Homo sapiens: one gene and its partner. The protein of the gene in region 2 purifies or fractionates together with the protein of the main gene of each other region. This does not show direct contact. Each region holds a gene or a part of one and is shown on either strand. Other genes may lie near its edges.

The links.
Region 1: the proteins of OCIAD2 (region 2) and ACOT9 fractionate together in Homo sapiens (co-fractionation; one large-scale study listed by BioGRID). This does not show direct contact.

Annotation. Positions count from the first base shown.
Region 1 is NC_000023.11:23,705,277-23,708,776, forward strand, and holds part of ACOT9 (acyl-coenzyme A thioesterase 9, mitochondrial isoform a precursor), read right to left. Parts: intron 2,669-3,500; coding exon 2,601-2,668; intron 1,464-2,600; coding exon 1,352-1,463; intron 583-1,351; coding exon 492-582; intron 319-491; coding exon 233-318; intron 1-232. UniProt on the Homo sapiens protein: Mitochondrial acyl-CoA thioesterase. Catalyzes the hydrolysis of acyl-CoAs into free fatty acids and coenzyme A (CoA), regulating their respective intracellular levels. Regulates both mitochondrial lipid and amino acid metabolism.
Region 2 is NC_000004.12:48,887,147-48,889,774, forward strand, and holds part of OCIAD2 (OCIA domain-containing protein 2), read right to left. Parts: intron 1-2,628. UniProt on the Homo sapiens protein: Has an essential role in the assembly of mitochondrial respiratory chain complex III. Is also required for STAT3 activation and plays a role in cell migration.

The sequences.
Region 1 (3,500 bases), on a different chromosome or scaffold from region 2:
CTTTCTACATATCATCACTGTATTTTCTCAGTAGTTTTTTTAATGTATGAACTTACAAAGTCAGAGAAACAACCTTCTAAAATGAAGATCAAATTCAGCTGGTATCAGTGTGGTATTCATTCAAAAACATAACATATTCCCACACACACCCAGACTGGTCCGAAATGTTTCATTTCAGTGGGGTGATATAAATTGCTTCTCAGAAGTTAAGGCTGCCTTACATGTAACTCACCCAAAGCTACAAGCAGTAGCCCACGCAAGTTCATATGCCTTCCTCATAAGGAAACCACCAAAGATCCGATTGAAAATGTTCCGCTCCTACAGGACATAAATAAATATCAATAAATACAAAACTTATGGCCACCTTTGTATACAGAACAGAGGAATTAACAATGCCACAGGACAAAGGCCAGTTTAAAGGTGTGTCAAATCTTGGACAAATATCATGAACGGAAGCTATCCTATTCGGATTTCTCACTAAATTATAATACCTGAGGGTGGCAAATTTCCAAACTCTTCAGTTTTGAATTCTCCATCCACACTGCATTAGAGGGTAAAACTCGACTCCGAAAACTTATAGTCCTGTACAAATGAATATTTATTAAACCCTGTTAATGCCATGGTTCTCTTGTTGAAAAGTAAAAACATTTGCAAGTCACTCCCAATACACTCAGACAACTGTGGCTCTGGAGAAGGCCAAGGTTTAGGCCAGGCGCGGTGGCTCACGCCTGTAATCCCAACACTTTGGGAGGCCGAGGCAGGCAGATCACATGAGGTCAGGAGCTTGAGACCAGCCTGGCCAACGTGGTGAAACCCCGTCTCTACTAAAAATACAAAATAATTAGCAGGCGTGGTGGCGGGCGCCTGTAATCCCAGCTACTTGGGAGGCTGAGACAGGAGAATTGCTTGAACCCGGGAGGCAGAGGTTGTAGTGAGCCAAGATCACGCCACTGCATTCCAGCCTGGGCAACAGGGTAAGACTCCATCTCAAAAACAAAAAAGGTCGGGTGTGGTGGCTCACGCCTGTAATCCCAGCACTTTGGGAGGTGGAGACAGGCAGATCACCTGAGGTCAGGAGTTCAAGACAAGCCTGACCAACATGGAGAAACCCCGTCTCTACTAAAAATACAAAATTAACCAGGCGTGGAGGTGCATGCCTATAATCCCAGCTACTCGGAGGCTGAGGCAGGAGAATCACTTGAACCCGGGAGGCAGAGGTTGCAGTGAGCCAAGATCGTGCCATTGCACTCCAGCCTGGGTAACAAGAGCGAAACTCCGTCTCAAAAAAAAAAAAAAAAAAAAAAGGCCAAGGTTTAAATGTTTTCCCAACGTGGAATCTCACCATCCTTACTTTGGATCCAGTGTGCTGAGAAACATCTCATGTATGGTGGTCCTCTCCTCAGCGCTGGGGGCCATTTTCAGTAACGACGTGGAGCTGAAGGCAATTCTTCTCCCCTTGTTCACTGGAACAAGGGAGAATAAGGAGCAATGATCAGGACGGTCGCACTACAGCACACGGTATTCTGACCTGGGATGCCTTTCAAAATCTCACTGAAAATTATACACGTATCCAAGAGAAAACTGCAGAGGCCACATAAAACTCCCAGTGAGTCTTTGGTTCCACATGGAAATTATATTGGTTCAGTGTGAGATCACTTGATATCATCCTGATCCAGAGCCCTGACCTGCAGTTATCCCATTGAGATGCATTTCTCACTTCATTAAAACGGAGAAAACAGGCCAGGTGCAGTGGCTCATGCCTGTAATCCCAACACTTTGGGAGGCGGAGGCAGGAGGATTGCTTGAGTCCAGGAGTTCAAGACCAGCCTGGGCAACATAGTGAGACCCCTGTCTCTACAAAGAAAAATTTTAATTAGCCAGGCATGGTGGCACGTGCCTATAGTCCTAGCTACTCAGGAGGCTGAGGTGGGTGGATAGCTTGGGCCCAGGAGATCGAGACTACAATATTGTTCATTGTAGCCTCAAACTCCTGGACCCAAGCCCAACTCCAGCCTGGGCAACAGAGCAAGAACTGTCTAAAAAAAAAAAACGGAGATAACAAATTACTTCACTTAATAAATATTGTCTGATCAATAAAATCATTCAAAGTATGGACTCCAAAGAAAAAAGAATAGCATATTTTTAATTTCAATAAATTATTGGTATGAATAAGACATTTGGGCCAGGCACAATGGCTCACGCCTGTAATCCCAGCACTTTGGGAGGCCAAGGCAGGCGGATCACGAGTTCAGGAGATCGAGACCATCCTGGCCAAAATGGTGAAACCCCATCTCTACTAAAAGTACAAAAATTAGCTGGGTGTGGTGGCGCGCACCTGTAGTCCCAGCTACTCAGGAGGCTGGGGCAGAAGAATCACTTGAACCCAGGAGGCAGAGGTTGCAGTGAGCCGAGATGGCACCACTGCACTCCAGCCTGGCAAGAGACAGAGAGACTCCATTTCAAAAAAAACAAACAAAAAAACAAACAAAAAAAAGACATTTGACTGGTATGAAGAGCCCATATAAAATCTTAAATAATCTCTTCTGCAGCGTAATTAATGTGCTTTTCAAATTTATTTTATTATAAACAAATTAATGTACATTCCCCTTGTCTAAAGAGCTCCTCTTCCTCTGGGCTTTCAGGGATGAGTGGATTTACAAATGCCGGCCTAAAAAGAAGAAAAAAAAGAATATAATTTAAGATATGCCATTATCTAATAAAACTTGAAGATGAACAATCACCTACTACTTTTAAAGAATCTGCTTTTCATTTTGGGTAGTGCTTACTGCTTGCCTTACATGTGAACGCTGGAACAATTAGGGAAGCCTTACAGTTACAGCCTTAATTGCACACTAGAAACTTAACATTATAAAAAGGATACTGGCATCTGCTAAATGTTTAACCTGATTCTAATCATGAGGAAACAGTCAAATATAGGTTGTAGAACACTCTACAAGAAAACTGGCTTTAGGCCGGGCGTGGTGGCTCACGCCTGTAATCCCAGCACTTTGAGAGGCCAAGCCGGGTGGGGATCACCTGAAGTTGGGAGTTTGAGACCAGCCTGACCAACAAGGAGAAACCTCGTTTCTACTAAAAATACAAAATTAGCCGGGCGTGGTGGCACATGCCTGTAATCCCAGCTACTCGGGAGGCTGAGGCAGGAGAATTGCTTGAACCCAGGAGGTGGAGGTTGCGGTGAGCCGAGATCGTGCCAGTGCACTCCAGCCTGGGCAACAAGAGCGAAACTCTGTCTCAAAAAAAGAAAAAAAAAAAAAAAAGAAAAAGAAAACTGGCTTGAACTCTTTAAAAATATCAATTTTTGAAAGACAGCAAATGGCAGAGAGACTATTCTAAAGAAACAGGATAACCAAATGCAATATACAATCCTTGATGGATTGGGTCCTGAATCAGGAAGATAGCTATAAAGGACATTTTAGGGACAACTGGTGAAATCTGAATACGGATCACATATTAAATAACTGTATCACTGTTGAATTTCT
Region 2 (2,628 bases):
AAGTGTCTGTTCATATCCTTTGCCCACTTGTTGATGGGGTTGTTTTTTTCTTGTAAATTTGTTTGAGTTCTTTGTAGATTCTGGATATTAGCCCTTTGTCAGATGAGTAGGTTGCAAAAATTTTCTCCCATTCTGTAGGCTGCCTGTTCACTCTGATGGTAGTTTCTTTTGCTGTGCAGAAGCTCTTTAGTTTAATTAGATCCCATTTATCAACTTTGGCTTTTGTTGCCATTGCTTTTGGTGTTTTAGACATGAAGTCCTTGCCCATGCCTATGTCCTGAATGGTATTGCCTAGGTTTTCTTCTAGGGTTCATATGGTTTTAGATCTAACATTTAAGTCTTTAATCCATCTTGAATAAATTTTTGTATAAGGTATAAGGAAGGGATCCAGTTTCAGCTTTCTACATATGGCTAGCCAGTTTTCCCAGCACCATTTATTAAGTAGGGAATCCTTTCCCCATTTCTTGTTTTTTCAGGTTTGTCAAAGATCAGATAGTTGTAGATATGCGGCATTATTTCTGAGGGCTCTGTTCTGTTCCATTGGTCTATATCTCTGTTTTGGTACCCAGTACCATGCTGTTTTGGTTACTGTAGACTTGTAGTATAGTTTGAAGTCAGGTAGCATGATGCCTCCAGTTTTGTTCTTTTGGTTTAGGATTGACTTGGCAATGCGGGCTCTTTTTTGGTTCCATATGAATTTTAAGGTAGTTTTTTCCAATTCTGTGAAGAAAGTCATTGGTAGCTTGATGGGGATGGCATTGAATCTATGAATTACCTTGGGCAGTATGGCCATTTTCACGATATTGATTCTTCCTACCCATGAGCATGGAATGTTCTTCCATTTGTTTGTATCCTCTTTTATTTCATTGAGCAGTGGTTTGTAGTTCTCCTTGAAGAGGTCCTTCACATCCCTTGTAAGTTGGATTCCTAGGTATTTTATTTTCTTTGAAGCAATTGTGATGGGAGTTCACTCATGATTTGGCTCTCTGTTGCTTGTTGTTGGTGTATAAGAATGCTTGTGATTTTTGCACATTGATTTTGTATTCTGAGACTTTGCTGAAGTTGCTTATCAGCTTAAGGAGATTTTGGGCTGAGATGATGGGGTTTTCTAAATACACAATCATGTCATCTGCAAATAGGAACGATCTGACTTCCTCTTTTCCTAATTGAATACCCTTTATTTCTTTCTCCTGCCTGATTGCTCTGGCCAGAACTTCCAACACTATGTTGAATAGGAGTGGTGAGAGAGGGCATACCTGTCTTGTGCCAGTTTTCAAAAGGATGTTTCCAGTTTTTTCCCATTCAGTATGATATTGGCTGTGGGTTTGTCATAAATAGCTCTTATTATTTTGAGATACATCCCATCAATACCTAATTTATTGAGAGTTTTTAGCATGAAGGGCTATTGGATTTTGTCAAAGGCCTTTTCTGCATCTATTGAGATAATCATGTGGTTTTGGTCTTTGGTTCTGTTTATATGGTAGATTATGTTTATTGATTTGCGTATGTTCAACCAGTCTTGCATCCCAGGGATGAAGCCCACTTGATCATGGTGGATAAGCTTTTTGATGCGCTGCTGTATTTGGTTTGCCAGTAGTCTATTGAGGATTTTTGCATCAATGTTCATCAGGGATATTGGTCTAAAATTCTCTTTTTTTTGTTGTGTCTGTGCCAGGCTTTGGTATCAAGATGATGTTGGCCTCATAAAATGAGTTAGGGAGGATTCCCTCTTTTTCTATTGATTGGAATAGTTTCAGAAGGAATGGTACCAGCTCCTCTTTGTACCTCTGGTAGAATTTGGCTGTGAATCCGTCTGGTCCTGGACTTTTTTTGGTTGGTAAGCTATTAATTATTGCCTCAATTTCAGAGCCTGTTATTAGTCTACTGAAGGGATTCAACTTCTTCCTGGTTTAGTCTTGGGAGGGTGTATGTGTCCAGCAATTTATCCATTTCTTCTAGATTTTCTAGTTTATTTGCATAGAGGTGTTTATAGTATTCTCTGACGGTAGTTTGTATTTCTGTGGGATCAGTGGTGATATCCCCTTTATCACTTTTTATTGCATCTATTTGATTATTCTCTCTTTTCTTCTTTATTAGTCTTGCTAGCAGTCAATCAATTTTGTTGATGTTTTCAAAAAACCAGTTCCTGGATTCATTGATTTTTTGAAGGGTTTTTTATGTCTCTATCTCCTGAAAATTTTTACAATCTACACATTTGACAAAGGGCTAATATCCAGAATCTACAAAGAACTCAAACAAATTTACAAGAAAAAAACAACCCCATCAAAAAGTGGGCAAAGGTTATGAACAGACACTTCTTAAAAGAAGACATTTATGCAGCCAACAGACACATGAAAAAGGCTCACCATCACTGGTCATCAGAGAAATGCAAATCAAAACCACAATGAGATATCATCTCACACCAGTTAGAATGGCGATCATTAAAAAATCAGGAAACAACAGGTGCTGGAGAGGATGTGGAGAAATAGGAACACTTTTACACTGTTGGTGGGACTGTAAAGTAGTTCAACCATTATGGAAGACAGTGTGGCAATTCCTCAAGGATCTAGAACTAGAAATACCATTTGACCCAACCATCCCATTACTGGGTATATACCCAAAGGATTA